Regions from separate parts of the Homo sapiens genome. Here region 2 is linked to region 1. The links come from fine-mapping of genetic effects on gene expression. Tissue or cell type: whole blood. Region 1 holds a variant in brackets; the other region holds the start of a gene. All regions are shown on one strand. Distances are from middle to middle.

What was found. PIP is the estimated chance that this variant, and not a neighbour inherited with it, causes the effect.
Region 2: ATP13A2 starts here. The variant in region 1 is fine-mapped to the expression of ATP13A2 in whole blood (TOPMed, PIP 0.97).

The regions. Positions count from the first base shown.
Region 1 is chr1:16,983,151-16,991,324 of GRCh38, reverse strand. ATP13A2 (ATPase cation transporting 13A2) reads left to right here. Exons shown (of 29, transcript NM_022089.4): 21 at 1,038-1,198; 22 at 1,322-1,438; 23 at 1,555-1,634; 24 at 2,851-3,003; 25 at 3,091-3,187; 26 at 4,056-4,279; 27 at 4,369-4,520; 28 at 4,693-4,862; 29 at 4,967-5,367. The coding sequence ends at 5,104. Among named protein-coding and RNA genes, the nearest start is that of MFAP2, 6.6 kb to the right of the region's middle. The variant C/G (reference allele first, on the strand shown) is at 4,429.
Region 2 is chr1:17,006,854-17,015,027 of GRCh38, reverse strand. ATP13A2 (ATPase cation transporting 13A2) reads left to right here and starts at 3,100. Exons shown (of 29, transcript NM_022089.4): 1 at 3,100-3,299. The coding sequence starts at 3,290. RefSeq lists a silencer at 2,936-3,465 and enhancers at 3,956-4,005, 4,769-4,848.

The DNA.
Region 1 (8,174 bases):
TGTCTTGAACCCTGGAGTTCAAGACCAACCTGGGCAACATGGCAAAACTCCGTCTCTACAAAGAATACGAAAATGGCCGGGCACAGTGTCTCACGCCTGTAATCCCAGCACTTTGGGAGGCCGACGCGGGCGGATCACTTGAGGTCAGGAGTTCGAGACCAACCTGGCCAACATAGTGAAACCCCGTCTCTACTAAAAATACAAAAAATTAGCCAGGTATGGTGGTGGATGCCTGTAATCCCAGCTACTCGGGAGGCTGAGGCAGGAGAATCACTTCAACCCGGGAGGTGGAGGTTGCAGTGAGCTGAGATCACGCCATTTCACTCCAGCCTGGGCAACAGAGAGAGACCCAGTCTCAAAAAAAAAAAGATTCTAGCTAGGGTGAGACAGCAGGAGCTAAGAGGTCTGTGTCCTTGTCCTCCCCGCCCCTGCACACACACATATGTGCACACACATTCATGGGCACTTGGCAGCAGAGTCACACAGCAGTAAGGAGTATATGTAGCCTGGGCACATGGCTCGTGCCTGTAATCCCAGCACTCCGGGAGGCCGAGGCAGGGGGATCACCTGAGGCCAGGAGTTCAAGACCAGACTGGCCAACATGGTGAAACCCCATCTCTACTAAAAATGCAAAAAAAATTAGCCTGGTGTGGTCGCACCCTCCTGTAATCCCAGCTACTCAAGAGGCTGAGGCAGGAGAATTGCTTGAGCCCAGGAGGAAGGAGGTTGCAGTGAGCCGAGATCAAGCCACTGCACTCCAGCCTGGGCCACAGAGAGAGACTCTTGTCTTAAAAAAAGAAAAAAAAGGAGTATATGTGGAGCTCCAGCCCACGGCTCCAGGTTCTCCTAAGACCCTTCAATGCCTGGATCTACAGATGAGAAAACTGAGGCAAAGGGATGTTGGTAACCTGCCTCAGCTCACTTGGCTGGTGGTGGCAGACGGATTTCATCCAGCCTGTTTTCCCATCTGTAAGGATCAGGATGAGGATGGCCTCCCCGGATAGCCTCAGACCCTCACCTTGCCCCATAACCCCCAGGGGACAACCTGCAGACAGCGGTGACTGTGGCCCGGGGCTGTGGCATGGTGGCCCCCCAGGAGCATCTGATCATCGTCCACGCCACCCACCCTGAGCGGGGTCAGCCTGCCTCTCTCGAGTTCCTGCCGATGGAGTCCCCCACAGCCGTGAATGGCGTTAAGGTGAGGCTAACCCAGAGTTCCAGCTGTACCTCACCCAGTGACCCCACCCCTGTGTCACCTGACCCAGGCCCCAACTCTCCAGGGTGGGCAGGGGGAGCTAAGCTGAGCTTCCTGGGCCCCCAGGATCCTGACCAGGCTGCAAGCTACACCGTGGAGCCAGACCCCCGATCCAGGCACCTGGCCCTCAGCGGGCCCACCTTTGGTATCATTGTGAAGCACTTCCCCAAGCTGCTGCCCAAGGTAGGGCCGCCCCCAGCTCCCTGGCCGCCCTGCGCCTCCCCTGCTCTGTCTCCTTCCTCACGGCTCGCTCTCCCTGGTGGGTGCCTCAGCCCTCCCCCATCTCCCTGTGCTCCCAGGTCCTGGTCCAGGGCACTGTCTTTGCCCGCATGGCCCCTGAGCAGAAGACAGAGCTGGTGTGCGAGCTACAGAAGCTTCAGTGAGTGCTCGGCAGAGGGTGTGGGCAAGGGCCTGCGGAGACTGAGCTTGTCCGTTCGTCTGTTCATCTGTCCTTCCCCAGGGCCCTGTCTCCCTCCTCAGGCACCAGAGAGCTGTCACCCCTCCTCACCAAAAGCAGGCAGGCTCTCCCAGGTCTTTCATGCTAAAAATAATAATTGTAGGCTGGGTGCGGTGGCTCATTCCTGTAATCCCACCTCTTTGAGTGGCCGAGGTGGGAGGATCACTTGAGCCCAGGAGTTTGAGGCCAGCCTGGGCAACAAAGTGAGACCCCATCTCTTATTAAAAATTTAAAAATTAGCCAGGTGTGGTGACACACCGGTCATCCCAGCTACTCAAGAGGCTGAGGCAGGAGGGTTGCTTGAGCCTGGGAGGCTGCGGCTGCAGTGAGCCATGATCACACCACTGCACTTCAGCCTGGGCAACAGAGCGAGACTCCGTCTCAAAAAATAGTAATAGGCCAGGCGCGGTGGCTCATGCCAGTAATCCCAGCGCTTTGGGAGGCTGAGGCAGGCAGATCACCTGAGGTCAGGAGTTCAAGACCAGCCTGGCCAACATGGTGAAACCCTGTCTCTACTAAAAATACAAAAATTAGTTGGGCATGGTGGCGCACACCAGTAATCCCAGCTACTCAAGAGGCTGAGGGCACTTGGGCAGCAGAGGAGGTTGTAGTGAGCAGAGATCACGCCACTGCACTCTAGCCTGGGCAACAGAGGGAGACTCTGTCTCAAAAAATAATAGGCCGGGCACGGTGGCTCATGCCTGTAATCCCAGCACTTTGGGAGGCCGAGGCGGGTGGATCACCTGAGATCAGGAGTTTAAGACCAGCCTGGCCAACATGGTGAAACCCCATCTCTACTAAAAATACAAAAAATTAGCCAGGCGTGGTGGCGGGCGTCTGTAATCCCAGCTACTTGGGAGGCTGAAGCAGGAGAATCACTTGAGCCCAGGAGGCAGAGGTTGCAGTGAGCTGAGATCATGCCATTACACTCCAGCCTGGGCAACAAGAGTGAAACTCCGTCTCAAAAAATAATAATAATAATGATAATAATAATAATAATTGCATCTATTCACTGAGCGCCTCCTGTACACCAGGCACCATGTGGCATTAGGGGCCCAGCTGTCATCATATTCTGCCAGCCCACCCATGGGGTGGTGGGGTAATTCCCCAGGCCACACCTGTCCACACCTCTCTTCAGGTACTGCGTGGGCATGTGCGGAGACGGCGCCAATGACTGTGGGGCCCTGAAGGCGGCTGATGTCGGCATCTCGCTGTCCCAGGCAGAAGCCTCAGTGGTCTCACCCTTCACCTCGAGCATGGCCAGTATTGAGTGCGTGCCCATGGTCATCAGGTAAGGCAGGCAGGGACCGGTGGGTGAGGGCTCAGCAGGGCTGGTCAGCCAACCTGGGTCCCCTAATGTCCGTGCCCTGCCACCCAGGGAGGGGCGCTGTTCCCTTGACACTTCGTTCAGCGTCTTCAAGTACATGGCTCTGTACAGCCTGACCCAGTTCATCTCCGTCCTGATCCTCTACACGGTGAGTATCTGCAGAGCTCCGTACCCAGAGCCGTCCCAGGACTAGGGAGGGGACACAGCCCTGTGCCTTGGAGCTGGCAGGTCCCAGAATAGATGACGTGGGCCCAGATCCTGACCCTGCCACTCTCCGGCTGTGTGGTTGGAGAGGTGGCAAGGCTTGGGGGAGATGAGAAAAACACCAGGCACGGAGCCTGGTACCCACTAGGTCCTCACAAATGGCAGCAGCTGTCATGGGCTAACATCTTGACCGCAACTCTGGGAGCTCCCCAATCTGCAGGGAAGACTGAACGGAGGCAGGGCCAAAACCCTCGCCCCCGCCCCATCCCCACAGGTCTGCCCATTTCCCCAGATGCACTTGCTTTGCCCCATACCTTGGCTGTACCTCCCACACCCTACTTGGAGGAGCTCTCCCCTCCCCTGCTCTGGGCATGGCCTGCTCACCCCCAGCGAATGAGGTGACACTGCAGGGCGGCGCACATCTTATACTTGGGTCTGTCCCTGTGTCTGCCTGAAAGCGAGGAGCTCCCTGAGGGCAGGAACTGTGCATGCCCTGGTAGCTATAGGGACTCCGCAAGGCAGAGCCGAAGCCTCCCCTTCGGGCCGGGAGTTTGTTACAGGGAGGGAAACCTCCCCTCAGATTTAGGCCCCCAAGGTCAGCACAGGTGCCCTTTCCATCAGACCAGGGGTTTGTCTCACATCAAGAGCGGCACCTCCTCCGCTGGGCTGGCAGGAGAGTACGGCCCCCATTAGACTGGGGGATGCCTTACCCATCAGATTCCTTCGGGGCAGGGGTGGGGCCTCTGCTATCAGACTAGGGGCTGCCAGGGCCAGGTCTTAGTTTCCCCTCTGTCCTCCCTTCCCTGTGGCAGATCAACACCAACCTGGGTGACCTGCAGTTCCTGGCCATCGACCTGGTCATCACCACCACAGTGGCAGTGCTCATGAGCCGCACGGGGCCAGCGCTGGTCCTGGGACGGGTGCGGCCACCGGGGGCGCTGCTCAGCGTGCCCGTGCTCAGCAGCCTGCTGCTGCAGATGGTCCTGGTGACCGGCGTGCAGCTAGGGGGCTACTTCCTGACCCTGGCCCAGCCATGGTGAGTAGGGAGCTGACTGACCACCCCCATCCCGCCCCTTCCCTGTCCACCCCACGTTCGTTCCCTGACCCCCATCCCTGTACCCCCAGGTTCGTGCCTCTGAACAGGACAGTGGCCGCACCAGACAACCTGCCCAACTACGAGAACAC[C/G]GTGGTCTTCTCTCTGTCCAGCTTCCAGTACCTCATCCTGGCTGCAGCCGTGTCCAAGGGGGCGCCCTTCCGCCGGCCGCTCTACACCAATGGTGCCACTGCGGGCGCGGGCGGGAGATGCTGGCGGAGGGAGGGAGGAGCCCTGGGGTGCTGGGGAGGCAGATGGGAGAGAGGTGCCGGCCGAGTGGAAGACTGGCGTGCACACGTGTGTCTGTGGGTGCCGGGGGGGCGTGGCTCCTGCCTGAGAGACTCTCCTGCTCCCAGTGCCCTTCCTGGTGGCCCTGGCGCTCCTGAGCTCCGTCCTGGTGGGCCTTGTCCTGGTCCCCGGCCTCCTGCAGGGGCCGCTGGCGCTGAGGAACATCACTGACACCGGCTTCAAGCTGCTGCTGCTGGGTCTGGTCACCCTCAACTTCGTGGGGGCCTTCATGCTGGAGGTGGGGCCCGCCCTGGGTCTCAGCAGCGGGAGAGAAGGGAGGTGGGGGTGCATTGACCCCAGCTCAGCCCCGGCTGCCCCTGACACCCTCCCTGCCCTTTGCAGAGCGTGCTAGACCAGTGCCTCCCCGCCTGCCTGCGCCGCCTCCGGCCCAAGCGGGCCTCCAAGAAGCGCTTCAAGCAGCTGGAACGAGAGCTGGCCGAGCAGCCCTGGCCGCCGCTGCCCGCCGGCCCCCTGAGGTAGTGCAGGCCCACGGGCACCCCAGACACTGGAACTCCCTGCCTCTGAGCCACCAACTGGACCCCTCTCCAGCAACACCACCGCCACCACCTCCCACATCCCTGAGGTTGGCGACTGTCTACACTCCTCCCCCGAGACCACCCCCACCCTGGGGAAGCGTTGACTACTGTCCCCTACCTTGGACCATCCCGCGTAGGGGTGGCAGCCCCCAGCTCCCCTCAGTGCTGCTGTCAGTGTAGCAAATAAAGTCATGATATTTTCCTGGCTCTGCTGTGCCTGTCTTGTACCTGGCACCATAGACCCTCCCACCTGCCCAGGAGGAAATGCACATACCCCCGGGTGCCCAGCTGGCAGCCCCTGCACGTGTCTGCCCCTGGAACCCCCTGGGGGGCTGGTTTTTCAGGCTGGTTTTTCAGCCTGACAACCCCCTGGAACCCCCTGGTTTTTCAGACTCCATTGGCCAACTCCCCTCTCTGGGCCTGTGTTCCCTCATCTCACAGTAATAATGTTTCCTCTGTGTCCAGCATGTGCCTGGATATTCCGTTTAGCTTTTTTTTTTTTTTTTTTTTTTCTTGAGATGGAGTCTTGCTCTGTCACCCAGGCTGGAGTACAGTGGGGTGATCTCTGCTCACTGCAACCTCCGCTTCCCAGGTTCAAGCGATTCTCCTGCCTCAGCCTCCCGAGTAGCTGGGATTACAGGCATGTGCCACCACGCCCAGCTAAATTTTGTATTTTTAGTAGAGACAGGGTTTCGTCATGTTGGCCAGGCTGGTCTCGAACTCCTGACCTCAGGTGATCCGCCCACCTTGGCCTCCCAAAGTGCTGGGATTACAGGCGTGAGCCACTGCGCTTGGCCCCATTTAGCATTTTACACACATTGTCATGTCATCCTTCCAACAACTGTGGTACTATTCCCATTTTACAGATGAAGAAACCAAGGCTTAGAGGTTACACAAGTAGTCAGAGTGGGGCCGGATAGCTTTGACTCCAGCTTCGATGTTCCTAACCCTCCTACCCTCCTTTGGAGGACAAGGAGATGTAGGCTTGCCTGGGAGGCATTTGCTAGGGGGCAGCTCCCTCTCTCCCACCTTACCCCCTCCCCGTCCCACCCCAGCATCCTGGGACATGTTTGTGGGCAGTTCCTTCCTCAGATGAAATCCAGGCTCGGAGCCCACATCTCCCAGCCAGAACCACGCGCATCATCCCTCAGGGAAGGGTGGGTGCCTCTGAGCTCATCTCACCAGCGGGCCCCTGGCCAAGCCCCTCTGCTCTAGAGAGGCAGCTTGGCCGTCTGGCTCATCTGGGCAGGGGAGAACAGGAAAGACCGGCTGTTTCCTGCCTTCCAAAAGCCCTGGCCAACCTCATTCCTGGAACCCCTGGTGCTATCCCCAGGCCTGCCAGAGTAGGGGCTGAGAAAACGTTGAATCATGCTGGGGAGAAGGGATGTGGGTGTGAAGATGAAAGTCCTGCCAGGAGGCACATCACAGTGGACCTCTGCTCCTGGCACTGTGTTGCCAGCCAGCGACGGTTCAGGGTGGTAGATGCTGTTTAAGAGGAAGCCACAGAGAGGCCTGGGTTCAAATCCCTCCTCTACCCTTAGCTGATTATTCATGAATCTGTTGGACAGGTGTGTGCCAGGCACCAGGACTAACTCAACAAACTGAATAAAACGGGACAAAAACATGGTCTAACCCTGCGAGCAGTTCACCATCCAGCGTGAAAGCCTGGCAGGGAAGGAGCACATCTCCAAAGACGTAGTGGGAGCACAGCAACCACAGCCCCATCCCCTCCCCTGCCCAAAGAAACAGCCAGGGGAATGGGTAGAAGCAGCAGAGAGGACATGGGAGCCAGGACACGAATTGTCAGCTTTAGCCCCTCAGTTTCCCAGTTTTTCTTTTCTTTTCTTTTTTTTTTTTCAGACAGGGTCTTGCTCTGTTGCCCAGGCTGGAGTGCAGTGGTGCAATCGTGGCTCACTGCAGCCTCTACCTCCCCAGGCTCAGGTGATCCTCCTACCTCAACCTCCTGAGTAGCTGGGACTATAGGCCAGCACCACCACACCCAGCTAATTTTTGTATTTTTTGTAGAGATGGGGTTTTGCCATGCTGTCCAGGCTGGTCTCAAACCCCTGGGCTCAAGCGGTCCACCCGCCTTGGTCTCCTAAACTGCTGAGATTACAGGTGTGAGCCACTGCACCCAACCTCCCTCCTTTTTTCAAGGGTAGGGGACAGCATTTCTGCTGGGTGAGTTCCTCTCTTTTGCCAGTGGGATTGCTCCTGGCAGCAGTGGGGTCTAAGGGCAGGCAGAGAGGGCTGGGCTGGCCTGGCCTGAGGGCCCACCTCTCTCCAGGTGACAAAAGTCTCTGCTGCCCTGCAATAGACACTGGGGGGCGGGGCATGGGAATGAAGGAGGCACAGGGCATATTTACTCCCTCCCTAAGACTCAGAGTCTAAGGGAGGTGGGGGAATGACTGGCGATGAAGAGATCAGATGGCAAGGGTCTAAATCAGGGGCCATCCTCATCTCCTCCCAGCCCGCAGCCCCTACAACTCTCACTCCCGCCTCAGGCCTAGGCTCCTGGGCAGGGCTGAAGGCTGCCCCTCACGCAGAGGATCTGCACCCCCAGCCAGCTTCTCCGGGAAGAGTTTAGTGTACAGTTCACTCATTCATTCCACCAATGTTTGCTGAACTGCTGCTCTGAGCCGGGCTCTGAACTTAATGAGCAAAACTGAAGATGAGCAAAAACAGCCTTGGTCCTGGCCTTCACGGGGCAAGATGACAGTCTCATCGGGAAGAGGGACAGGGCTCAGATGGTCACAGACATAGGCCAACAAGACAACTGCAAGCAGTAAAGCTAGAAAGCACAAAAAAAGGAAAAAGGGAAGGCCCCTCTGAGGAAGGGAGGGTTTGATCTGTGACCCCATGGAGGAGACCTCAGCCAGTGCTCGGGAGGAAGAAACGCCTCAGTGTGGGAGGGAGAGGGGTTTGGGAGAAAACCCCCAAAGGCCAGTGGCTGGAGGAGGAAGAGGAGGCAGAGCCAGGCTGCCATAAAGGGCCGGGGCCCTGGAAGCCACAGG
Region 2 (8,174 bases), 24 kb before region 1:
TTGTCTTGAGTACCTACTATGTGAAAGGCCCTCGAGTGAATGCTGGGAGGCTGCAAGAGTAATTCCTTCCCAACCCTGAGTTGACAGCTGGCATGTTTCTGACATGACTGGCCAGAGCTAGAGGCCTCCCTGTTGGGAGGATGGTTTTTCCGTGCAAGGCTAATATTGCTTATTTCTCATCTCTCCCGTCACACTGCTCAGGTCAGGGAGGGACTCCCATTGGTCAAATTCTCTTCAGGCCCCTTCCCTTCCTGGCACCAGGATAACTACCATACAAAGTGCTGAAACTCGGCCAGGCACAGTGGCTCACTCCTGTAATCCCACTTTGGGAGACCAAGGTGGATCTCTGAAGCACAGGAGTTCGAGACCAGCCTGGGTAACATGGCAAACCCCATCTCTACAAAAAAAAAAAACAGAAAAATTAGCTGGGTGTGGTAGTGCTCACCTGTAGTCCCAGGTACACAGAAGGCTGAGGTGGGAGGATCACTTGAGCCGAGGTGGGAGGATCACTTGAGCCCAGGAGGTCGAGGCTGCAGTGAGCTGAGATCATGCCACTGTGCTCCAACCTGGGCAGCAGAGAGAGACCCTGTCTCAAAACAAACAAACAAAAAAAACAAAAACAAAAACTGAAACCCCACTTTACTGTGTGTCTAGACAGCCATAATCCTACCAACAGGGTTTGTTACTAGGTGAAAAAAATCCTCTTTTGTTGCAAAAATCTAGTGAAACTAGAGAAGTCGAAAAGTAAAGCAATGCTCTGGAATAAACTCGCCCAAATTAGTGATTTCTCAAGCTTTTTGCCACTGGGACCAGGCCTATTACGCCCTCTCCGTGGGTTCCCAAGAGAGCCACAGCCTAGAAGGGAAGCTGTTCAGTCGGTTCTCACCCACGTGGGACTGGAAATTTCAGACACGGTTATCCGGGAAGACAGCCTGGGCCACAGACCTCCTCGATGACCACACACCGAGAGCCACTTCCCCAAAGGTAACCCCAAGCAGATGGCAAGGCCTCCCACATGCTCTGTGGTTTGGAAGGAAGCTTCCTCTGGCCTCCTCCCTCATTAAGGAGAAGGGACGAGCTGCAGGTGCGGCTCCTTCCCAGCTGGCTCAGGGAATAGAGCCCCTTTAAGGCCAGGCAGCCTTAGCAATAAAAAGAATGAAGGGGGCACCCTTGCAAGGCAGTCCCCCATGCAGTCCCCAAGCCCTCTGCTTTTATTTATTTATTTATTTATTTATTTATTTATTTATTTATTTTAGAGGGAGTCTCAGTCTTTCACCCAGACTGGAGTACCTCTGCTTTTATGAAGCCGCTAATCCAGTGCCAGGATCTAAAGCAAGCAGCTGGCTTCTACCAAGTTCCTGCCATCTCATTTCATCCTCTCCATGCCTTCCATTTTGTAGGTGAGGGGAAGGAGAGCCTTAGAGAAGGAAAGTGACATTTTAAAGCTCACACAGCTAGAAAGCAACTCATGCATCCATGTCTTTCTGATGCCAGAACCCAGCCCCTTGCCACTGTACCATACTGCCTCTTGCCAAGGCCACCTGGGCTAGCCATTTCCAAACCCAGCCTTCCTGCTGCCCTGGAGGCTGGGTTCCTGCCAGAAATTGAGCTAAGCCCTGGGGGAGGACATGGGAGTTCTGAAAAGTTAAGCAGCCTGCCTCCCCTGGAAGTGTCACCGGAAGATGAAAGAACTCTTGTCACCTGACCCAAGGAAGCCAGTCCCATGGCCCAGGTGGTCAACAGGAATGACCCGCAACTGGTTGGCTCGGGCAGCCTGCCCCAGCTGAGTAAATGGCTCCACTGGCACCCAGCTGCTCAGGCCAAAACCCTGGGGAGCATCTTGAATTCCACACATTCCTGCACCCCCACATCCTATCCACCAGCAAGTCCTGCCAACGTGTGTTCCTGTACCAAATGTTCACTGGGATCTTGCTATGAATCAGGTGCTGCTTTCCCTCCTGGGGTCTATCCCCTACCCACACCCTCACCACCATCACAGCTGTGTCTCCTTCCAGCCCCTTCCACAATAGGGATCGTTGGAGTTTTCCTTTCCTTGACTAGGGCTACTTCCCAGTAGACAGCAGTCTCCGCAGGGACAGGGGCATCTCTGTTTTGTTCACTCTCACGTTCCTGGCTCCCACAGTGGTGCTGGCACTCCATAAATTCATACTGGACAAATGACCAGTGATCCTGCCCACGTCTATCCTTGGCCCTAACGTGAACCTTCCCTTGTTTGCCCTAGGATCTCACAGATCCACTCTCCCCTTTGGAGCTCCTCTGTCCAGAGGTCCTGGAGACAGGGAACACTATGCCTGTGCCGGTCACTATGGGGTAGCAGGATAAATGCTGCACGCAGGTAAGACATCTCTGGTGCCTTTCAGGGGTCTTCATGAATCCCCCCAGTGCAGGTGTGTCTGCAGGTCACGCTGTGAGGCTTCTCTTTCTCTGGCATTTCAAGGCCTCCAGTGCATCATGGCAGACTCTCCCTGGGTCTCTGTGGGCCCACATCTGACCCTGTGAATCTCTGGGCAGGTGTGTCTTCCTTCTTTGCATTCATCAAGCAGCGCCAGGCACTGTCTCAAGTGCTTGATACGCATTTTCTTTTTTTTTTTTTTTTGAGACAGAGTTTCGCTCTTTTTGCCCATGCTGGAGTGCAATGGCATGATCCCGGCTCACAGCAACCTCCGCCTCCTGGGTTCAAGCGATTCTCCTGGCTTAGTCTCCGAGTAGCTGGGATTACAGGCATGCGCCACCACGCCCAGTTGACAAGCATTTTCTTGTGTGATCCTCGCAGCAGTTCTCTGTGAAGCAGGCATTGCTATCCTACAGGTTGGGAAAAGAGGGCCAGAGAGGATCAGTGACTTGCTCACGGTCGCGCGGCCTGGAAGACATGGAGAGCTGGACCAGCACGCACAGTCCCTAACCACTGGGACGTGCTGGCGGGGGCTACCTCCGTGAGGTGTGTGTCTCCGGTCGCCCCGCCCCCGGTGTGTGCGGAGGAGCAGGCGGGGACTACAAGTCCCGGCAGCCCCGGCGCGGGCGCTGCGAGGGCCGCAGAGGGCCGGGCGGGGCTTGCGGCGCGCACGGAGGGACTGCGGCAGTGTCGGAGCCGCGCCGAGCCTGGTGGCCCAGGTGCCCCGCCCGCGTCAGCCCTGCTCCAGCCCCGCGCTAGCCCAGCGCCCCTCGCCCCGGGCCGTCCGGACCGCGCCCCCGCCCAGGGCCTTGCGCACGCCGGGGCCCAGGCCGAGGGCCGCAGCGCCGGGGCCGGCGATGAGCGCGAGGAGCCGGCATGAGCGCAGGTGAGTGCGGAGTCCGGGTCGGCCCCGAGCCCGGCGCGGTCCCCGGCCCGCCAGTTGTCGTCACCCCTTGGAGGGAGAGGGGAGGCGACGCCCCCCACCGCGGGGTCGCGAGCCCAGGAAGCGGGACCTGGTTGGGGATCCTGGCCCGTCCCCTCCCTTTTGACGGGGACTCGGCCCCGGTTTCTTCCCAGAGACGCCGGGGCTGGGGATGGCGCCGCCGCTCGCAGCCGGTCCCTCCCCTCCCCTGCACCCCTCAGCCGCGGGATTGGAAGCCGGGCGCTTGTGCAAGAGGGTCCTGGGGCCGTGCGGGGACGGGGAGGCCACCCCACGCCCACTTAATCGGATCCCACCCCGAGTGACGGATGTCCAGGTGGGGGAGACGGCTGCATCCTCGGGCCTCTGGGCAACCCCTCTGGGCTGAATGAATGAATGAATGGCGTTGGGGGAGTCGGGACTCCATTTCCTGGGTAGATGTCCTGGGCCACAGCGCCACTCCTGACCTCCTGCCTCAGACCCCAGAGAAAACCCGTCACACCCAGGGCCAAGGGCCACACCCTCCATGCAACCCATCCCTGGCCAGATGTCCTACGCCCACTCCTCCAGGGTCTAATTTAAATCCCACCTGCCGGGAATGGGGCCAGTCCTCCTCCCCTATCCAGAAAGGTCTCATCTCAGTGTCTGTCACTCAGCCCCCAGCCCCACAGCCTAGAGTGCACCCCCCGGCGAGGGAGGGGAAGGAATGAGGAAAGACAGCCCCTAGAATCCAGATCCAAAGATGGGAAGATGGTTCACACACACTCCCGCCTCAGCCTGGCAGAAGACAGGAGCTCCCCGCCGCCGGGAACCACAGCCAGGGAGGAGGCAGCCGCCCTGGGCCGCTGCCAGGTCACCAGCAGGAAGCCAAGGCTTCCGCAGGAAATAAGAGGTCCCAAATGGCTCTAGCCCCTCTGATCCACAGTGCTGGTGACACTGCCCCGAGCTGTGACCTCAGACGAGGTTCAAGTCCAGTCTTGGCCCCTCATAGCTGTGTGACTTTGTGCTTGTCAATCTACTCCTCTGGGCCTCGTTTTAAATGGGAATCCTAATCTGTACTTTTCATGGAATGGCTGTGGGAAAGAATGTGCCCATTCAGACACACTCATTTCCAGCTTCTCCCCTTTCAAGCTCTATGACCCTGGACAAGGGATTCACATGCTGTTCCTCAGTTTCCCCAGGTGTACAATGGGGATAATAATAGTCACTACCCCAGAGGGTTGTGTGTGAAGCTTCATTGAGTTAGCACACTGAAGGGCTTCCGCAGGGCATGGTGAGCACTCCATGGGAGCTGCTGTTCATCAGAAGAGCAATGACAGGCCAGGCGTGGTGGCTCACGCCTGTAATCCCAGCACTTTGGGAGCCTGAGGCAGGCGGATTACTTGAGGTCAGGAGTTCAAGACCAGTCTGGCCAACATGGGGAAACCCCGTCTCTACTAAAAATACAAAAATTAGCTGAGTGTGGTGGCATGTGCCTGTAGTCTCAGCTACTTCAGGAACTGAGGCAGGAGAATTGCTTGAACCTGGGAGGTGGAGGGTGCAGTGAGCTGAGATCTCTCCACTGCACTCCAGCCTGGGAGACGGGCAGGGGGGAAGGGGGGAACGGGGGGGGAAGACTCCATCTCAAAAAAAAGAGCAATGCCATCATGAAGGTGCTCTCGCCCCCCCACACAGCCTGTGGGTGCCTGTTCTGGGCTGGTCTGAGCCCACAGAAGCCCTGGGGAGACTGGGCTGTGGCTGGGGATAAACAGATGTACTGCAGGAGAGAGTGCCCTGGGCTTGATCCCTGCAGGGAGGGGCTCTGGAGGTTTCCACAGCTGTGACTTCCTCCCTCAAGTTCCACTCCCCTTTTCCTCTTTGCCAAGGTTGACTGAGAGAGTGTCATTGTGAAGTGACAGTCATACGATTGCCATGAGGAAGAACTTCCCAGGGGGACCGCTGTTTACATACTGGGGACTCTGCCCTCTTTTTGAAGAACCTTTTCTTCATAAAGAGTCTTGAGGCCGGGTGTGGTGGCTCACACCTGTAATCCCAGCACTTTGGGAGGCTGAGGTAGGAGGATCAGCATGAGGCCGGGAGTTCAAGATCAGCCTGGGCAACAAAATGAGACCCTGTCCCTACTAAAAAAAAATTAGCCTGGTGCAGTGGCACCTGCCTGTAGTGCCAGCTACTTGGGAGGCAGAGGCAAGAGTACCTCCTTTAGCCTAGGAGGTCAAGGCTCCAGTGAGCTAGGATCATGCCACTGTGCTCCAGCCTGGGTGACAGAGTGAGACCCTGTCTCTTTTAAAAAAAAAAAAAAAAAAAAAAAGGAAGAGGCTCAAGCCCCTCCCCCCAACTCCCAGCACCTTTGCCTTCAAGCTCTGTTGTGTCCAAGAGACAGACATTCATTCATTCAGTCAGTCGGTCAATCAGTGTTTCCTGACCCCTGAGCACATGGCAGGTACTGTGAGCAGTAAGGGCAGTGACACCCATCTGAGCCTGATGCTGAGGGGAATGTCAGGAGTAGATGTGCTGGGCAGAGAGGACCTGGGAGTAAGGCCAGCCCTGTTCCAGCTTTGAGACAAGTCTGAGGGCAACTGCCCCAGAGGCTCAGTGCTCTCGTTTGTCAAACTGGGTAAGAGAGCCCACCTTGTGGGTTGGTGCGGGAGGAAATCAAATCAGCACCGCAGGGATGGCTCCTTTCCCATCATCCCTGAGCCCGCTGGGCTGTTGGCCTGAGGGTTTTTTTTTTTTTTTTTGAGTCTTGCTCTGTCACCCTGGCTGGAGTGCAGTGGCGTGATCTCAGCTCACTGCAAGCTCCACCTTCTGGGTTCACACCATTCTCCCGCCTCAGCCTCCCAAGTAGCTGGGACTACAGGCGCCTGCCACCACGCCCGGCTAATTTGGTTTTTATATTTTTAGTAGAGACAGGGTTTCACCGTGTTAGCCAGGATGGTCTCAGCTAGTCTCCACCTCCTGACCTCGTGATCCGCCCCCCTTGGGCTCCCAAAGGGCTGGGATTACAGGCGTGAGCCACTGCGCACGGCCGGCCTGAGGGTTTTAAGGTACAAGGAGCAACTGTTGAATGGGCCTAGGGAGCCGTGGGACAGCCAGGGCTTCAGACAGGGTGATGTGAAAGGAGAAGAGAGCCTGGGAAATGGATAAGCAGAAGCCACGCCCCCCTGACCTGGGAGCCGGGTCCTGCCCACCTGTCCACGCAACCCCCCCAGGAACTTCAAATGCTTCTACCTCCCTGTGTGCTGGATGCTTCGGGACTATCATCCTAGAGATGAGAAATGGAAGCCCAGAGAGGCAAAGGCACTTGCTGTATGAAACACAGCATCAAAAAAGAAATTCTTAGGAACAAATGATGGGCAAAAAGACAAAACCCTGTCTCTACAAAAAAAATTAGCTGGGCATGGTGGCCTGTGCCTGTAGTCCCAGCTATTTGGAGGCTGAGGTGGGAGAATTGCTTGAGCCTGGGAGGTCAAGGCTGCAGTGAGCTATGATCGCAACACTGCACTCCAGCCTGGGTGACAGAGAGAGACTGTCTCAAAAAAAGACTTATACACGAAAACTGTAAGCTGGGCATGGTGGCTCACGCCTGTAATCCCAGCACTTTGGGAAGCCGAGGCTACAAGAGTGATAAGTAAATAAATGAATGAATGAATGAATGAAAGGACATCACAACCGAGGTTACCTGGCAGGGTTGATACGTTAGCCATGTACCCTGTGCACAGTGAGCCCTCTAGGAGTGTTGAAGCCAGAGTGCTTGGGGATGGGGCTGCTCAGAGGCTGGGGGTGCTGTGCCCACAGCAGCTGCCTGGGGCACTCTGGACTCTTTGGGTAGAAATTTTAGAAGGGCTCGCCGGGCGCTGTGGCTCACGCCTGTAATCCCAGCACTTTGGGAGGCCGAGGCGGGCGGATCACGAGGTCGGGAGATCGAGACCATCCTGGCTAACACGGTGAAACCCCATCTCTACTAAAAATACAAAAAATTAGCCGGGCGTGGTGGCGGGCGCCTGTAGTCCCAGCTACTTGGGAGGCTGAGGCAGGAGAATGGTGTGAACCCGGAAGGCAGAGCTTGCAGTGAGCCGAGATCGCGCCACTGCACTCCAGCCTGGGTGACAGAGCGAGACTCGCTCTCAAAAAAAAAAAAAAAAAAAGGAAAAATTTTAGAAGGGCTCAGATTGGGGGATGAAGGAGGGAGCCCAGAAAATCAGCAGCCTACCCCGCACCCGCCCAGCTTTTCCAGCTTAGTGAGCTTTTTCAGAGGCTCTTGTGAAACCACAGATGCCTAGCACCATCCCTACCCCGGCCTGAGGAGTTGATCCAGCCAGTCTGGGGAGGGCCCTGGCATCTGCATATGTAAAAGGTGCTCCAGGTGGTCTGGGACCGTAGATGAACCCTGACAGAGGCTGTCCAAGGGTGGGGCTGGTGAGCTCTACCCGCTCTGGAGCCCCAGAACATCCACTGGCTGCCTGCCCTGCTAAGGCCACAGCTCTACAGCACAGGAGGAAGGAGTGAAAAGAATGTCTGTGGCCGGGCGCAGTGGCTCAGCCTGTCAGCCCAGCACTCAGGGAGGCAAGGCGGGTGGATCACCTGAGGTCGGCAGTTTGAGACCACCCTGACCAGCATGGTGAAACCCCGTCTCTACTGAAAATACAAAACTTAGCTGGGCGCCTGTAATCCCAGCTACTCGGGAGGCTGAGGCAGGATAATCGCTTGAACCTGGGAGGCAGAGGTTGTAGTGAGCCGAGATCATGCCATTGTATTCCAGACTGGGCGACAGAGCAAGACTTCATCTCAAAAAAAAAAGAATATCTGCAATAGAACCACCTGATACCATTCCCCAAGTCTCAG